Linked DNA regions of Homo sapiens. The protein of the gene in region 1 purifies or fractionates together with the protein of each later gene. This does not show direct contact. Each region holds a gene or a part of one and is shown in the gene's direction. Other genes may lie near its edges.

The links.
Region 2: the proteins of PRIM1 (region 1) and CHM purify together in Homo sapiens (co-immunoprecipitation; one large-scale study listed by IntAct). This does not show direct contact.
Region 3: the proteins of PRIM1 (region 1) and SPANXN3 purify together in Homo sapiens (co-immunoprecipitation; one large-scale study listed by IntAct). This does not show direct contact.
Region 4: the proteins of PRIM1 (region 1) and TBCB fractionate together in Homo sapiens (co-fractionation; one large-scale study listed by BioGRID). This does not show direct contact.

Annotation. Positions count from the first base shown.
Region 1 is NC_000012.12:56,730,000-56,735,977, reverse strand, and holds the end of PRIM1 (DNA primase small subunit), read left to right. Parts: intron 1-1,732; coding exon 1,733-1,831; intron 1,832-4,243; coding exon 4,244-4,263; 3' UTR 4,264-4,398; downstream 4,399-5,978. UniProt on the Homo sapiens protein: Catalytic subunit of the DNA primase complex and component of the DNA polymerase alpha complex (also known as the alpha DNA polymerase-primase complex - primosome/replisome) which play an essential role in the initiation of DNA synthesis.
Region 2 is NC_000023.11:85,959,746-85,964,058, reverse strand, and holds part of CHM (rab proteins geranylgeranyltransferase component A 1), read left to right. Parts: intron 1-6; coding exon 7-394; intron 395-4,313. UniProt on the Homo sapiens protein: Substrate-binding subunit of the Rab geranylgeranyltransferase (GGTase) complex.
Region 3 is NC_000023.11:143,510,543-143,514,475, reverse strand, and holds part of SPANXN3 (sperm protein associated with the nucleus on the X chromosome N3), read left to right. Parts: intron 1-3,933.
Region 4 is NC_000019.10:36,118,468-36,122,780, forward strand, and holds part of TBCB (tubulin-folding cofactor B), read left to right. Parts: intron 1-2,242; coding exon 2,243-2,339; intron 2,340-3,059; coding exon 3,060-3,251; exon of another isoform or gene 3,252-3,706; intron 3,707-4,313.

The DNA of each region.
Region 1 (5,978 bases):
TTTATAAATCAAAGAATACTTAATGCAGGCCAGGCGTAGTGGCTGATGCCTGTAGGCCCAGCACTTTGGGAGCCTGAGGCGGGTGGATCACCTGAGGTCAGGAGTTCAAGACCAGCCTGGCCAACATGGCGAAACCCCATCTTTACTAAAAATACAAAAATTATCTGGGCGTCGTGGCGGGCGCCTATAATCCTAGCTACTCGGGAGGCTGAGGCAGAAGAATCGCTTGAACCCAGGAGGTGGAGGTTGCAATAAGCCGAGATTGCCCCACTGCACTCCAGCCTGGGAGACAGAGCAAGACTCCATCTCAAAAAAAAAAAAACAAGAATACTCAATGTAAAAACTTCTAATAATCTCCAAAAGGGCGTGACCAGAGCCTGAGCAACACAAGACCTTGTCTCTACTAAAAATAAAAAATTAGCCAGCTGTGGTGGCACTCCCTGTGATCCCAGCTACTTGGGAGGCTGAGGTGGGAGGATCATTTAAGCCAGGGAAGTCAAAGCTGCAGTGAGCTGCAATTGCACCACTGCATTCTAGCCTGGGCAAAAAAGCAAGACAGTGTCTCAAAAATAAGACATGGGGCCGGGCACGGTGGCTCACGCCTGTAATCCCAGCACTTTGGGAGACTGAGGCAGGTGGATCACGAGGTCAAGAGATCAAAACCATCTTGGACAGCATGGTGAAACCCCGTCTCTACTAAAAATACAAAAACTTAGCCGGGCATGGTGGCACACACCTATAGTCCCAGCTACTCAGGAGGCTGAGGCAGGAGAATCGCTTGAACTCGGGAGGCGGAGGTTCCCGAGCCAAGATTGCACCACTGCATACCAGCCTGGCAACAGAGCAAGACTCAAAAATAAAGGCATGGACCGGGCGCGGTGGCTCACGCCTGTAATCCCAGCACTTTGGGAGGCCAAAGTGGGTGAATCATGAGGTCAGGAGTTTGAGACCAGCCTGGCCAACATGGTGAAACCCTATCTCTACTAAAAATACAAAAAATTAGCTCATTGTGGTGGCGGGCACCTATAATCCCAGCTAGTCGGGAGGCTGAGGTAGGAGAATTGCTTGAACCTGGGAGGCGGAAGTTGCAGTAAGCCGAGATCGCACCATTGCACTCCAGCCTGGGCAACAGAGTGACACTCTGTCTCAAAAAAAAAAAAAAAGAAAATATATGTATATATATTATATATATATATATAAATATAAAAGACTTGTATGAAAGAGAGTATCATATATCTCAATTTTTATTACATGCAAAAATAATATTTTAGCTGGGCATGGTGGCATGTGTCTGTAATCCCAGCACTTTCAGAGGCCGAGGCTGGGAGATCACTCGAGCTCAGGAGTTCAAGACTAGCCTGAGCAACAGAGTGAGACCTCGTCTCTACAAATACCAAAAAAAAAAAAAAAATTGGTTGGGCATGGTGGTACATGCCTGTAGTTATAGCTACTCAGGAAGCAGAGATGGGAAGATCCCTTGAGCCCAGTAGATCGAGGCTGCAGTGAGCCAAGACGGAACCACTGTACTTCAGTCTGCATGACAGAGTGAAATCCTGTCTCAGTAATAATTTCACCTTTTTTAATGTGACTAATATAGTATTTAAAAGTATGTATGTTTCTCTCATATTTCAATTGGGCAGCCCTAGAGAATTCTTATAAGAAACTTAGTTGTGTTTTCATGTTATTCTTGCTGCCAGTATGCTAATTATAATGTACATTCTTCATAATTTAGATTATAAGAAGACCAGTCTAGCACCTTATGTGAAAGTTTTTGAACATTTTCTTGAAAATCTGGATAAATCCCGAAAAGGAGAACTTCTTAAGAAGAGTGGTAAGACGCTATGCCTTTCCCTTCTATCTAGTTAGATCTTATTATTAGTAGAAATGAGCAATTTTTGAGTTCTAGTCTTTCTTTGCCCTCCTCCCAAAATTTACAGATTTATCTTACTATCCTTAATGTTTTGGAAATTGAGGTTCCTTAATTCAATTTAACACATAGTTATTAAACACATTCTAAGTATCAGGTCTATAAGGGAGACAAAGATGAATTAACATCATGCCTCCTTGCCCTTAAGAAGTACTAACTTGGCCAGGCACGGTGGCTCACGCCTGTAATCCCAGCACTTTGGGAGACCAAGGCAGTTGGATCACTTGAGGTCAGGAGTTCGAGACCAGCCTGGCCAACATGGTGAAACCCTGTTTCTACTAAAAATACAAAAAATTAGCTGGGCGTGGTGGCAGGCACCTGTAATCCCAGCTACTCAGGAGGCCGAGACATGAGAATCGCTTGAACCGGGGAGGCAGAGGTTGCAGTGAGCTGAGATCACACCATCGCACTCCAGCCTGGGCAACAGAGCAAGACTCCATCTCAAAAAAAAAAAAGAAGTACTAACTTAATACAAAAAAAAAAGTACAAAATGCTAAGAAAGAGATTTTATCTGATGGACTCTGAGATTTCATATGAAAATGGTGGTATCTGAACTCCTTTCAGTGTAGCTGCTGTAAGAATTCTAATCCCTAGCCGGGTGCAGTGGCTCACACCTGTAATCCCAGCACTTTGGGATGCTGAGGCAGGTGGATCGCCTGAGGTCAGGAGTTCAAAACAAGCCTAGCCAACATAGTAAAACCCCATCTCTACTAAAAATACAAAAAATTAGCTGGGTGTGGTGGTGGGAGCCTGTAATCCCAGCTACTAGGGAGGCTGAGGCAGGAGAATCACTTGAACCCAGGAGGCAGAGGTTGCAGTGAGCTGAAATTGTGCCATCGCACTCCAGCCTGGGCAACAAGAGCAAAACTCCGTCTCAAAAAAAAAAAAAAACCCTAGGCCGGACACGGTGGCTCACACCTGTAATCCTAGCACTTTGGGAGGCCAAAGCAGGTGGATCACCTGAGGTCAGGAGTTCAAGACCAGCCTGGCCAACACGGTGAAACCCCGTCTCTACTAAAAATACAAAAATTAGCCGGGCGTGGTATTGTGCGCCTGTAATCCCAGCTACTTGGGAGGCTGAGGCAGGAGAATCACTTGAAGCTGGGAGGTGGAGGTTGCAGTGAGCCAAGATCGCACCATTGCACTCCAGCCTGGGCAACAGAGCAAGACACTATCTCAAAAAAAAAAAAAATTTCTAATCCCTAATGCCAATATACTATACCATAAGGTATGAGAAGGATTTCCACAAGCAGAAATATGATAAGATAAAGGGTATGGAGGTGGAAAAAGGCCAAGGGTTGTTCATTCTTGAAGGAACATCAAGAGCAAAGACAGACAGGAAAGCATCCAGTTACTCTGGAAGCCATCAAGTAGTACAGCTAATCTAGTATATGGTGTGTCCAGAAGTGATGGGCTATAAATCCAAAGAAGCAAACTGAATGGCCTTGAATTCCAAGCTTATGTGTTTGGGCTTGGTTTTGGGCTTAATAGGAAGCTTTTAAAAGTTCTGAGGAAGGGAATGCCATGATTTGTAGTTTTTATCTAGAAAGATAAATCTGGGCAAGACAGGGACTAGAATAGAGCCCAAGAGGCCAACTGCGCTATTGCCACTAGAACAGTAGCACTGGAGATCTCCGAAAGGTGCAAATACTGGAACCATCCTTGAGACTTGCTAATGATTTAGAAGTGAAGAGATGAAAGATGGAAGGGAAAATGTTATAGAAGCCAGGGGAAAGAAAAGTGCAAGATTATCAAGTGTCAGGTACAGTAGGAAACTAATAAAATCCTGCTGCATATAATAACTGGAAAGAAACACAAAGAGGATAGCAGTGTCAAATGAAGGGTACTCTAAATGGGAGACATATGAGCATATGTATAAGCCAATATGAAAAAAATCAGCAGATTGAATATTATTCAAGAGATGAAGGCTACTCTAGAAAACTGTGACAATGTTATAGCAATACAAATTATCTTGCCACTTCATTTTTTATTTAAATATGTGATAGTTTAAGCAGTAGTGCCTAAGATAATGCTCTACTCAGTAGACACTCATATGTGTGATTATTGGATGAACAACAACTCTGAGCTTGGAAAGCCTGGTTGAAGCTGCCATTGCAACTGGCCGTATTAAGTCCTTTGTATCCTCACTGTTCCATACTAGCTCAGCCTATGATGTGGACTTCAGCAAATGTGTAAGCAAATCTTTGTGCATGATGTGTGTTAAATAGAAGCATTAGGCAAAAAAGAATGTAAAAGTAAATGGGCTTTGTTTTGTTTCCTTTGCTGTTCTTCCATATATTATCTATTCTATTTTAGATTTACAAAAAGATTTCTGAAGACAGAGCTCCTCAAACCATTGTGGATATCTTCTGCCTTCAACCACAGATCAAATACTTCAAGAGCCATTTAATAAATATGGCAGAACTATATATGTGTCTTAAACCTCAAAGTAAATTTTCCTTGAGAAATAATTTATGTTGAAAAGATTTCCTGGCCAAGTGCAGTGGCTCACACCCGTAATCCCAGCACTTTGGGAGGCCGAGGCAGGCGGATCACCTGAGGTCAGTAGTTCGAGACTAGCCTGGCCAACATGGTGAAACCCCCGTCTCTACTAAAACTACAAAAATCAGTCGGGTGTGGTGGTGCATACAGTAATCCTAGCTACTTGGGAGGCTGAGGCAGGAGAATTGCTTGAACCCAGGAGGCAGAGGTTGCAGTGAGCTGAGATCACAGCCACTGGGCGACAGAGCGAGACTCCATCTCAAAAAAGAAACAAAACAAAAAAAAAAGTAAGATTTCCTGAGACGACCAAGGAGAGTGTCAAGGTTCCTGGAAGGAGAAATAAAAGGAGGCATAAGTGGATTGCAGATAATTTTGTAAAATTCAATATTCTACAAGGATAATTCTAAGGCTTCTGATATAAATACCCAGTTCTACTAGTTGCCATATATAGAGGTAAGTGAGCAGTAATAGGACTGTCATCTCAGCTCACTTGATACGTCATATGTTTGGGTGAATGATGGTTTTGTCCTTAAGTTTTAGACATTTAATTATATCTAGAGGGCCAGGCACAGTGGCTCATACCTGTAATCCCAACACTTTGGGAGGCCAAGACAGGCAGATCACCTGAGGCCAGGAGTTCTTTTTTTTTTTTTTTTTTTTTTGAGACAGAGTCTTGCTCTGTCACCCAGGCTGGAGTGCAGTGGCACGATCTTAGCTCACTGCAAGCTCTGCCTGCCAGGCTCATGCCATTCTCCTGCCTCAGCCTCCCAAATAGCTGAGACTACAGGTGCCCGCCACCACGCCCAGCTAATTTTTTTTGTATTTTTAGTAGAGACGGGGTTTCACTATGTTAGCCAGGATGGTCTCGATCTCCTGACCTTGTGATCTGCCTGTCTCAGCCTCCCAAAGTGCTGGGATTACAGGTGTGAGCCACCACACCCGACTGAGGCCAGGAGTTCAAGGCCAGCCTGGCCAACATGGTGAAACCCGGTCTCCACTAAAAATACAAGAAAATTAGCCAGGTGTGGTGGCGGGCACCTGTAATCCCAGCTACTAAGAAGGCTGAGGCAAGAGAATCACCTGAACCCATGAGGTGGAGGTTACAGTGAGCTGAGATCACGCCACTGCACTCCATCCTGGGCAACATAAATAAAAATTATAAAATAAATAAAACGTATTAAACTTGTGAAAATACTTGGGACTTTTTATGTATCTAGGTACTTCAGTTTTTAAAGTTTGATTTTGTGAGATGGGTTCTAATATGTCCGATTTCTCTTGCCCTGTTTTACAACTAATCTAAACAAAACAGTCATTCTAGTTTATATTCTGTCTTCCGAGAAACATTGAGAAGCAAGCTGTCAGGCTGGTGCTTTTAATGACAATGAAAATTTTCCTTCCTTTGCATTTCCTTTAACATTGTTTCCTCTACAATCAATCTTTTCTTATCTTCTGGTTTATATGAAACAGACTCTATAATGCAGTCAACACATTGATTCCTTGACCTATATTTTAAGAAAATTCCTGCTGGGTGCAGTGGCTCACACCTATA
Region 2 (4,313 bases), on another chromosome or scaffold:
TATTAGTCAGGATTTGCATGAAGATGTCGAAGAAGCTGGTGCACTGCAGAAAAATCATGCTCTTGTGACATCTGCAAACTCCACAGAAGCTGCAGATTCTGCCTTCCTGCCTACGGAGGATGAGTCATTAAGCACTATGAGCTGTGAAATGCTCACAGAACAAACTCCAAGCAGCGATCCAGAGAATGCGCTAGAAGTAAATGGTGCTGAAGTGACAGGGGAAAAAGAAAACCATTGTGATGATAAAACTTGTGTGCCATCAACTTCAGCAGAAGACATGAGTGAAAATGTGCCTATAGCAGAAGATACCACAGAGCAACCAAAGAAAAACAGAATTACTTACTCACAAATTATTAAAGAAGGCAGGAGATTTAATATTGATTTAGTATCAAAGGTAAGTACTAATTTTACCCATCTTTGCATTGAAAACAGTATCTGGGCCCATAAACCCAGTTTTTGTAATTCTCTGAGATGCAGAACATTTGTTTTGTAAAGAGATAGTAGCCAGATGTTTGTAATTCATTTAAAATATTCCTTAAGTACAAATTAAAAACATATTTAAAGTGCTCACATGAAAATGCTTTAATTATGTTTTTAATCTATACCTGAAGAATACTTTTGTGCTTGAGCACATACTACAACCTAATATTCTCTGGACACTATGAATTCTATCAAAAGAAAAATTCTAATGAACCTGTTTAGAAATCCATGTTATTTACAGTCAATTTCCATCGATTCTTTTAGCCTTTATGTATAGTAACTATTTTCACAACTGTATGATGATGAATACTCAGAATAAACCAATGAATTTTTAAAAATCGTGTTCACATGGACACAGCGAGGGGAACATCACACACCAGGGCCTGTCGGGGTTGGGGGTTAGGGAAGGGATAGCATTAGGAGAAATACTTATGTAGATGATGGGTATGTAGATGACGGGTATGTAGATGACGGGTTGATGGGTGCAGCAAAACACCATGGCGTGTGTATACCTATGTAACAAATCTGCACTTTCTGCACATGTATCCCAGAACTTAAAGTATAATTTAAGAAAAAAGTCTCAAAAAAATCATGTGTTCAGGTTTGAAAGCTTCAGAGGAAAATTTAATAGTGATGGAGGCAGGAAGGCTGGGAAGAAAGCTATTGTCTTCGGTTATGTTCCTGAACATAACTAACTTGAATGTTAGTTCACTGTAACTTCACAGGAGGTCCCTCCATCTTAGAAGCGTACAATATTGCATTTGGTTTATAGGAAGCAAGACTATTTTTAGTGCAAAAGAATAGAAAATCAGTAAGATAAAGGATTATGGCCTTAAAGGGTCATGATACAGGACAGGGTAAAAGTAGAGAAAAACAGACTAAATCCTATAAGTTGAGAGCTAACAATAAGTAATTGAAAAGAAGTAGGAGAGGATAGTGAATAGCACAAGACTTGCCACAGAACTAGCACAGAACTAGGCTTTTCAATTTAATGTACTTTCTTCAAGTTCCAAGTGATAGGGGACAGAGAGGGACCAAAACATTTCCCTTGACAAGTTGTTTCTGCAAATCCCATATCCTCATACTCTTGCTCCCTTTGAACTTGATGCCTGAAAATATAAATATCTTTTTACTACCCATTTTTCTTTCTGTCTGTCATGTAGCACTCTGTGTCTGATTTTGCATAGTTGGCTATTGCATTGGTTCTACTTCATACTTCCGTACTATCTCTCCCACCTCCATCTACTTTGACCCTGTCATGATTTGAAATCTAGCATTTTTTCCACATTACCTTGGCTGTTCATCTGTGGATGGAAGTTTAATCCTAGCTCACTAATAACCTTCCTGGTCCCATGAGCAGTACTCTATGAAATAGGTTAAACAAAACATAAAAACTGAACAAGTCAAATAACAAATGGGCTTTGTGTGACAATTCCATTTTGAAGTAATTACTTGGAATTTGGAATGTTTTACCTAAATAAATGATGATATAAATGTGGTTAAGAATCAAGGCTATTTCATAAAAGTCTGTAACTTTTATGTTAGCTGAAATTTAGTATATATCTTGCAAAGGGAAATGGTAGAAGACGGTGCTGTTTCAATTGTAGGAATTGGTGTAGAAAATTATTCAGTTGTATAAGAAAATGAATGCTGGTTGTGGGAGGAAAAAGACAATTGAATTAGAAGTTGACACATTTGAAGATACCCTGAAGGAGACTTCTGGGTATTTTCATCGGTTTGAATGGTTAGTAATAACCAGTTCTCTTATGGTAAGTAAAAACCAAACATGTCTAGAGGCAGTGGACTAGGCAGTTGGGACTGCGTCCTGCAGAGTTTCATGGGTTCATACGTTCTACAAAATAACTAATAAACATTTAATGTACTCATTTTCAAAACCAGAAGTATCTTAATCACATATAACCATAGTAATACAGGAGATTAATTTTCCGTTTTTAAAATGTTAAGTCATTTAATACATATTCAGTGCATGCTAGATGGAAAGCAATGTATTCCATGTTATTGGGGCAATTGGTCACTCCTTAGAAATTTTATCTGTTCTAATAATTGCAGTTAATAAACGTCTAAGTTTAGGATGATTGCCAAATATCTATCTTAAAGCCCTAAAGCCCTACCTCCTTTTTTTTTTTTTTTTTTTTTTTTGAGACAGAGTCTTGCTCTGTTGCCAGGCTGGAGTGCAGTGGCGCCATCTCTGCTCACTGCAACCTCCGTCTCCTGGGTTCAAGTGATTCTCCTGCCTCAGCCCCCTGAGTAGCTAGGACTACAGGCGCGTGCCACTATGCCTGGCTAATTTTTGTATTTTTAGTAGAGATGGGGTTTCACCATGTTGGCCAGGATGGTCTCGATCTCTTGACCCCGTGACCTGCCTGCCTTGGCCCTCCAAAGTACTGGGATTACAGGCGTGAGCCACCGTGCTCGTCCAAAGACCTACCTCTTTTCTAAAGTCCAACTCAGTATCTCCAAACTAGTTGACATTTCTATATGCGTTCAACCTCAAAGACATCATGATATAATTAAATACTGTGGGGCTTTACAGTTGACAATACACATTCATGTATATAGCCTTTTAAAAAGTAATAGCTCAAGGTAGGTTAGTTAAATAAAATACGTATAGTGTCATACTGCTCAGACTAATAGAGAAGGTCAAAGATGAAATTCTTAAAATGAAAGCTCATTTCTAAGTAAGTCCATACTCTTAATAATTATGGAACCAACATGCTAAGGAAAAATTGTTAATTAATAAATCTAATTTCCATTATTGTAATCAAATTGCACTGCTCTTTAGCCCCTCATCACTGTGGTAGATCGCTTAGAGGGTAGTGAAAAAGAGGCTTAGGCTGAGCGTGGTGGCTCAGTCCTGTAATCCCAGCACTTTGGGAGGCTGAAGCGGGCGGATCACCTAAGGTCAGGAGTTCGAGACCAGCCTGACCAACATGGTGAAACCCTGTGTGCTACTAAAAATACAAAAAATTAGCTGGGCGTGGCATTGCATTCCTGTAATGCCAGCTACTCGGGAGGCTGAGGCAGGAGAATCGCTTGAACCTAGGAGACAGAGGTTGCAGTGAGCTGAGATTGAGCCACTGCACTCCAGCCTGAGCAGCAGAGAGACTCTGTCTCAATAAAAAAAAAAGAAAAAGAGGCTTAGATTCTGATATGTACACATTTATTATTTGTGAGCTTCAGAAACAAAAATCTAGTATAATTTTAATTGAAATTTGTTTTTGTTCTTGTGATATCTTAAATGCATTATTTTTCAAGCTGGCATTAAACCTTAAGGTTTATTGGATCTTATTAAATAAAAATGCAGTTTCATATTTTATATCTTAATGTTTGTGACATTATTATGGCTATGCAGGGATCCTTGAGTCTCAAATGTGTATCTTTTTAAACAAGTGATTTTTGAAGTAACTATTTTTTATCATTATTATAGAGTTAAGAATTGGCAATATATTCTTTAAAACATGGTCTCTTTCAGTAATGTAGTGTGTTAGGAAGAGGGTAATGAAGTAACGTGCCATATTTAATCAGGATGATCAGATTAGCTTCAAAAAAGTGATGTCAATTTTGTTTTGCAGAATGCTGAACTATTAGTTTATAAAATTTTACTTGAATGGTATTGATTTACTGATAGTCTTTACTGACTTATTAGTTGCTCAGACTAATGGTTTAGATTGATTTTTGAGATTCCTTTTTCTTTGTATAGTAAAGCTAATTTTCCCATTTATTTATTATAGATGTAACATTCATTTTTAATATTTATTGAGTTATAGGCATTAAGAGTATCTTAATATAGGAAATAGTCAAATCTGTTGCAT
Region 3 (3,933 bases), on another chromosome or scaffold:
GAGGGGAAGTTTGAGTGCAAAGGGAACATGCCTTAGTAATATATTTCAGATTGGCAGCCATGGCAGAAGAATGTATATAATTTTCTAAAAGCTGGAGTAGGGGCAGTAAGCAGCATGGAAATGGTTGTGCACATATGAAAGTACAGAAGGTTTTTTAAACTTGGACAAGACACTTTATCACTGAGATCAAACAATTTTTTCCTGAATGGCACCAGCCCGGGCAAGTGGGGTTCATTCCTTCTGGGTATATACAGGAAAAAATGAGCAATAACGATGGGGTTTTAAGGGCTGCCTGCCAGGCTGCCAAATTTGTTGAAAGGTTTCTCTCGGTTATGGCATCTTTAGACTTTCGGCACCCCTTGCAATGGATAATGGTGGCCTTTGGTGGTAGTTTATCCACCCCCAGCAGCTTATGTATAAGTTTGCCATTTCTTATGGGAGTTCCTTTTGTAGTTAGGAAACCCTGTTCCTGCCAGATGAAGGCATGAGACTGTAGGACATGGTATGCATATTTGGAATGGGTGTAAATGTTGACCCTCTTTCCCTTTGCTAGGGTGAGGGCCCTGGTTAGGGCAACTAGCTTAGGCTGTTGAGAGGTAGCATGGGGTGGCAGAGCATTGGATTCTAGGAGTTTATTTTCAGCAATGATGGAATAGCCAGCTGCTGGACATGGCTCCCTAAAAGAGCTTCCATTAACTAACCGTGTATGTGTTCCCTGCAAAGGGGCATGTGAAATGTGTTGGAAGGAGGAGGAGAGGGAGTCTAAGAGGTCCAGACAGGAGTGAGAGAGCCTAGAATCGGAAGTGTTTACAGGGAGGAGGGTGGCTGGGTTGAGAGTTTTATATCTCTGGAAGGGGATTAGAGGGCTACCTAGGAATAAGGCATGTACCTGTTATAAGCAGGATGGTAGGAGGGATAGAAGGGATTGATGGTTTATGAGGTCCTGTAGGTAATGGGAAGATGCAATAGTAATGTGTTGGTAAAGAGGGAGTTTCCGTGCCTCTAAGGCCAGCGATGTGGCCACAGCCAAGATTTTTAGTCAGAGTGACCAGCCTTGGTCACACAAAACAACAGAGTCCAGTTGTTTTGAGAGAAGTGCAGTGGCTTGTGTGGCGTTGCCGTATGTTTGGCAGAGTAGTCCAAGGGCAAGGCCCTGGTCAGAATGTACATACAAAGTAACGGGCTTGGTGAGGTTGGGCAGTCCCTGTGCCAGGGCCATTAAAAGGGCATTTTTAAGTTTTTAAGTGGGAGTTGATGGGGCAAGCTGGGTTTAGGGGTTTTAGGATGGGCCCATGTGAGGCCCTGTTTAGTGGCTTGGCCAGCAAGTCAAAATTGGGAACTGACAGCCAGAAGTAACCCACAAGGCCCGAGAAGGAGAGAAGGTACTTTTTTGTGTGAGGAAAGGGCATGTCCCAAATTAGCTCCTTTCATTGGGTTGGGATGGCTCGAGAATTAGGGGTTAGGACAAACCCAAGGTAAGTAACTTTGGTTTGGGCTACCTGAAATATTGTGGGCTAGGCCCAAACTTTGGTTTGGGCTACCTGAGATTTCCTCTATTATGGAGGAAGTTTAAAACCTAAGTGGTGTGTTGGATGGACAGGTTAAGGAAGGGGCTACAGAGAAGGAGTTTGACATGTTGCAGGAGGGTGCTAGCAGCAAGGGAAAGTTCACCTAGGTCCTTGATGAGGGCAAGTCTGAATAGGTGGGGGCTATCCTGGAACCCCTGTAAGAGTACAGTCCACTCTAGTTGGGTGCACATGTGAGTATTAGGACTTGACCAAGTTAAAGCAAAAAGACTTCTGTAAGCCGGATTTAAGGGAATGGTGAAATAGGCATCTTTCAGTTCCAATACAGAGGAGTGTGTAGTAGATTTAGGAATATGGGAGAGTAGAGCATATTGGTTGAGGACCACTAGATGTATTGGTACCACTGCCTGGTCAACAACTTGGAGATCCTGGACAAAGGGGTAAGTCCCGTCTGTCTTTTGGAAAGCCAGAATAGGGGTGTTCTGGGGAGAGTTAACAGGCTTGAGAATATGAGCTTGTTAAAGTTTACAAATAATAGGTTTGAGGCCCCTAAGCACGGCTGGATTAAGGGGATATTGAGACTGAAAAAAGAAAATGGAGGAGTTTTGAAAGGTTATTTTAACTGGGATGTGATGTGTGGCTATTGTGGGTTTAGAAACATTCCAAGCTTTAGAATTAACAGAAGGTAACAGGGTGGATAATGAGGATGAGTAGGGGGAGAGGGAAGCGTTTGGGTGTCGGAGTAAAATAAAAGGGGTAGAATTGTAGGAGCCGCATTGCATGGAGGCCTGGAATTTACTTAATATGTCCCACCCCAAGATAGGGGTAGGGGACTGAGGGATAACCAGGAAACAGTGGGTGAAGGGGGCTGTTGAATAGGTTGCATAATAAAGGACGAGTCTGTGCCTAGAGGGGATTTTATTGATTCTCACAATAGAGATCGAAGAACAGAAAAAGGGTCTAGAATATTCTGGTAAAACCGAGTAACTAGTTGTCGTATTGAGTATCCAATAGGAAAGACATGGACTTACTAGAGACTGACAGAATTACCCTGGGTTCCGAGGTGGTGATGGCAGTAGGGGTGGTGGACTCTAGGCCCCACCTGTCTTCAGGTACAGGTGGTGAAGCTAGATGAAGAGTTTCACTGAGCACAGTCTGACTTCCAGTGTTGCTTGATATCACAGATGGGGCAAGGCTTCCAGAGTGTCACGGGATTAGGCCAGGCTTTTGCTCAGTGTCCCTGTTGGATGCACTTATAACAGGCTCCTGGAGTTGACTGTTGCCAAGTTGAGGAATTCTGTATGCCTTGGGAACCCTGTTGAGTGGCAGCTATCAGCATTTGATATTTAGCCTGGCCCTTTTTTAGGTTTGGGTTTTTTAGTTCTTCCTCTCTAATCTTATAGACCTTAAAGGCCACTTTGATTAAGTCTCTTTGGAGGTTTGAGGGCCATCCTCCACTTTTTAAAGTTTTTTTTCAAATGTCTGGGGCTGACTGGGAGATAAAGTGTAAATGGAGGTAGATTTTGCCCTTAATGGTATTAGGGCTTAAGGTGGCATATTTAGTTGTGACCTTTGAAAAGGCGGGAGAGGAAAAGAGCAGGGGCGACTTTATTTATGCCAGCTAGAAGGCATGATATCATATGGCCTGGTTTCTGCCTGTCTACAGAAGTTGCCTGATAATTCCGATTGAGGTCAGTTCTGGGGACAGCTAGGGTCCCTACTGGGTTATGAGCAGCATCTTGTTGGTGGAGGGTGTTCTCATGGACCTGGGCACCCGTAAATATGTGTTCCCTGTCCTCCAGGGTGAGGGTAGAGGAGAGGATGACATATATGTCATGCCAGGTAAGGTCATAAGATTTAGGGAAGTACAGACATTCCTTGAGGAAGGAGGTAGGATCCATTGAAAAGGAGCAAAGTCTCTTTTCAGTATGGGAGAAGTCAGCTAGGGAACTTGAATTCAGATTATGCCTTCAGTCCTTGCAACCTCCTGCAAGGGAAAGACTTTGGAAGGCCTTTGGGCATGTGTCTGGTTTTCGGCAAAAGAGCGTTGGGCGTGAGACCTGGTTTGAGGTGGAGAAGGAAGGGGGATGGAGGGTGACAGTAAGGGGGTGGAGGAGCCGGATCCGAAGGAGAAGGTGGAGGGAATGGGAGAGGGCAGGAGCCAGACGAAGGGGTTTGTTGGCCAGGTTGAAATTCAGAGGAGGAAGGCTTGTCCCGAGGAGGAGGCATTTTGGGGGGTTTCTCCTTGAGGAGGAAGATTTGAAAAGGTGAACAAGATTGGCAGGAGAGTGAGTGAGGCATGAGCGGAGATAAGCAAAGCACTTCAGATCATTTACCATTGTGTTGGAGAAAGATTTTTAGATGATGTTGAATTTGAAAGTTGAATGTTTTGTTTTTTAGAAGAGGG
Region 4 (4,313 bases), on another chromosome or scaffold:
ACAGATCACTTAAGGTCAGGAGTTCGAGACGGTGAAACCCCGTCTCTCCTAAAAATACAGAAATTAGCTGGGCGTGGTGGCAGATGCCTGTAATCCTAGCTACTCAGGAGGCTGAGGCAGGAGGATCACTTGAACCCAGGAGCTGGAAGTTGCAGTGAGCTGAGATCACACCACTGCACTCCAGTTTGGATGATAGAGTGAGATCCTATCTTTAAAAAAAAAAAAAAAAAAAAGGTTAACTGAAGATGGGGAAGGGGTGCCCTAGGAGTGGGGCACAACCCAGCAAACACTCCAAGGTGGGAGGGAGCGCGGTGGGGATTAAGACAGGCCACTTCTGTGGCCAAACACTGTGGAAGCTGGGGAGGACCCTGACCTGGCTCAGGTGTTCACAGGCCCCCTCTGGCTGTGTGTGGGGAACAGGTGGTGGAGGACAGGAAGAGTAGGGAGACCAGGAAGGGGCTGCTGTGAGAGTCCTGATGAGGGGACGAGGTCTGGAGCTGTGGGTCAGGCCTCTGCTGGGTGCACAGGACTGAGCCTTTGGGCCACCCTGGGCAGCTGAAGCTAAGGGGTGCGGGTGTTCATAGGCACCTCATAGGCAGTGGCATCTTTGAGCAGGTTTCATAACAGGCGGTTCAGGTACACACAGACCTCCCAGGCCACTCAAGGAAGGTGTTCCAGAGTGGAGCCACTGGGGAATTTTTACATTTTCTAAAATTCTTTTTCTCTTTATAAATATCACCCATATTCATTGTTTAAAATAACAGAACTTCAAATTTGTGAAAATTCTCAACAGAAATTCTCAGTGACGCTTCATCCGGAGGTAAAGGCCATTCCTATTTTGCCATGTTAGCCCAGTGGCTTAGGCCAGACACCTCAGGGTGTTCCTTGGGCCCGCTCTCTCCCTCACCCCCACATCCACTCTCATCAAATCCTCTCGGCTCCACCTACAAAAACTTCCCTGACCCTGGTCCAGCCTCCATCCTTCCCCCAACCTCGCCATCCCGGCAGCTTCCTCCCTGGCCTCCCCGCTCCCCATCTCAGCCAGAGGGAGCCTGGGACCACCTGAGTCAGGCCAGGGCCCTCCTAGCTCAGAGCCCTGCCCTGGTGGCACTTCGCTCCAGATAAAAACCAAAGTCTAGGCCAGGTGCGGTGGATCGTGCCTGTAATCCCACCCAGTACATTGGGAGGCTGAGGTGGGAAGATCACTTGAGGTCAGGAGTTCTAGACCAGCCTGACCAGCATGGCAAAATGTCGTCTCTACTTAAAAATACAAAAATTAGCCGGGTGTGGTGGTGTGTGCCTATAGTTTCAGCTGCCCGGGAGGCTGAGGCAGGAGAATCACTTGAATTTGCAGTGAGGCAGAGGTTTCCGTGAGCTGAGATCACACCACCACACTCCAGCCTGGGTGACAGAGCGAGACTCCGTCAAAAAAAAAAAAAAAACCCAAAGTCTCCAGCAGTCCCTTGTGTCTTCCACTCTCCCTCTGGCTCGCTCCACCCCACCCGCACCACCCACTCTAGAGCGTGAAGGACATTTCTACCTCTGGCCGTCTGCACCTGCCGTTCTTGCTCATCTTTCCAGCCTTGGCTGAAACATCCCCTCTTTTGGGAAGCCTACCCTCCCATGCTCCTTAAGCCTCTTCCCTGTCATATTTTTCTCCATAGCCATCCTCCAGTGTTTCATAGGTACCTGTTCCTTTGTTTGTGGTTGGCCTTCTCCCTGCACAATGAGCACAGCCTGAGGGCAGAGTGCGTCTGTGTTTACACTGAGTCCCCAGCATGAGGCCCAGCTGGGCCCCTGGGAGCTCGGAAACCAATGAATGAATGAATAGTGGGGGCAGAACAGGAAGAGATGCTCTGGGGCCTGAGGTTGGGGCCAGCTTAGGAGAGTCCCAGAGGCCCATCGAGGAGATGCGCTGTGCACAGGGCTGTGGGCAAGGCCTGAGCTCTGCCGGTTGGACTCTGTGACTTTGGGGCCCTTGGCGATGTTGATGCCAGCAAGCGGGGAACTTCTGGGGACAGAGGCAGCCTCTGGGAGCTTGGATGGGGGTGAGGAAGGGGAGGTGGCCAGTGTACGTAGCTACTTCTCCCTTCCGCTGGGCTCAGGAGAGAAGAGAAGGCTGCAGTACAGGCGAGGGAGGGAGATGCGTTTTTCCCAGATGGAGACACTGAAGTCCCTGCACCCAGCACCCAGGCCTCCCTGGCCAGACCCTGATCCCCACGGAGCCCCTCCCCTCACACAGGTCATTGACCACAGTGGCGCCCGCCTTGGTGAGTATGAGGACGTGTCCCGGGTGGAGAAGTACACGATCTCACAAGAAGCCTACGACCAGAGGCAAGGTACGGGCAGGTGGGCGTCGAGGGGTGCGTGGGGGCCAGAGGGAGTATGTGCAGGTATGAGGGCGGGCAGGTTAGACAGGGCCCCTGCAGGGAGGCCAGTGGTGTAGACGGGGGGCCGAGAGCTTGGGAGGATATAGGGGTGAGGCTGGGAGTGGGGACAGACGGAGGCCTGGGGTGGGAATGAGGGCCGGGAGGTGTCAGGGGTATGGGCAGTCAGACGTGGTCGGGGGAGGGCTGGGAAAGTGGAGGGAGTTGAGGGGTAGGTGTGGGGGCTGGGTGTTGTCAGGGTCAGATGGGGGCATGGGGCGGTCGGACGGGGTGTGGAGGGCAGGACAGGTGGAATGCGAGTGGACAGGGTGGCGGTCAGTGAGGGCGCCTGGGACGGATCGAGTGTTGGGGGAGACCGGGGGCCTCAGGGCCGGAGGAGGGCGGAGGAGGAAGGCGGATGATGAAGGCAGATGTGCGCTGAAGGGGTGAGAGACCATGGGTCCTGTAGTGAGGGGTGCAGGCGGCACCCCTTCCATTTACGATTGTGGAGTTGGGGGGCCTAGGAGTCCTGGGAGAGGCTAAGGCTGTGGTGGGAGACCTGGGGCTTGGGTGACAGCCCTTTGTCACCTGGAAGAGAGAGTTCCTCCGTGAACGTGGGCCCCTCGTGGGTGGAGCGTCATCCTGTTAGGCCCGGCCGACACCCCAACTGACCCCAGCCCCCTCTGCCCACAGACACGGTCCGCTCTTTCCTGAAGCGCAGCAAGCTCGGCCGGTACAACGAGGAGGAGCGGGCTCAGCAGGAGGCCGAGGCCGCCCAGCGCCTGGCCGAGGAGAAGGCCCAGGCCAGCTCCATCCCCGTGGGCAGCCGCTGTGAGGTGCGGGCGGCGGGACAATCCCCTCGCCGGGGCACCGTCATGTATGTAGGTGCGTGGCTCGCGGGCCCGGTCCCGGGCTCCAGGGCTCCAAGGCCGGGAGGAAATGTTGGGGGCACAGTGGAGCCTCGGAGACCACGCTCTGCCTAGGGGCGCGGGGTTGGGGGGGACTCGAAACGATCTCAGTCCCTGGAGGTGACGGAACCATCTGCCGACACTGACGGCCCAGAGTGTTTGTGGAGGGAAGTGGGAGGCGCAGGCGGAGTGATCTGTCCAGCGAGGGAGGAAGCAGAAGCCAGAGGCACGCGGCCTGTGCGCTTCGAAGCGTGGGGCAGTGTCAGTCGCGGTGGGGAAACGGGCGGCGTGACCAAGGCAGGAGTGAGGGAACACAGGGGGCTGTGTGAGCCCAGAGGAAGCACCTGGAGGCTGGGAGCATCTGAAGGAAAGGAGGCAGCAGCCAGGTGAAAAGGGAGGAAGAGTTCCCGCCAGAAGGAGTAGCGGGTGCAGGTGAGCAGAGCGCAGGAGGTCCACCTGGGGAAGGGGAGCGGGAGGAGAGGGGAGAAGTGTAGTCAGGGGCATGGGCAGGGCGGCGTCACAGTGGAGAGCAGTGTGGATTTTTTTAAAAAGAACAGGCTAGGCATGATGGCTCACGCCTGTAAACTCAGCACTTTGGGAGAACAAGGTGGGAGGCTTGCTTGAGCCCCGGAGTTGGAGGTTACAGTGAGCTATGATTGTGTCATTGCACCCTAGCCTGGGCAGCAGAGAAAGACCCAGTCTCAAAAAAAAGGCTGGGTGCAGTGGCTCACACCTGTAATCCCAGCACTTTGGGAGGCTGAGACAGGAGGATCACTTGAACCCAGGAATTTGAGACCAGCCTGGGCAACATAATGAGACCCTGTCTCTACAAAAAAAAAAAAAAAAAAATCCCACAAAACTTTTGTCAGTTGTGGTGGTGAGCACCTATAGGTGCCCCAGCTACTTGGGAGGCTGAGGTGGGAGGATGGCTTGAGCCCGGGAGTTGAGGCTGCAGTGAGCTATGATCGCACCACTGCACTGCAGCCTGGGTGACAGAGGGAGACCCTGTCTCCAAAAAAAAAAAAAAAAAAAGATACAC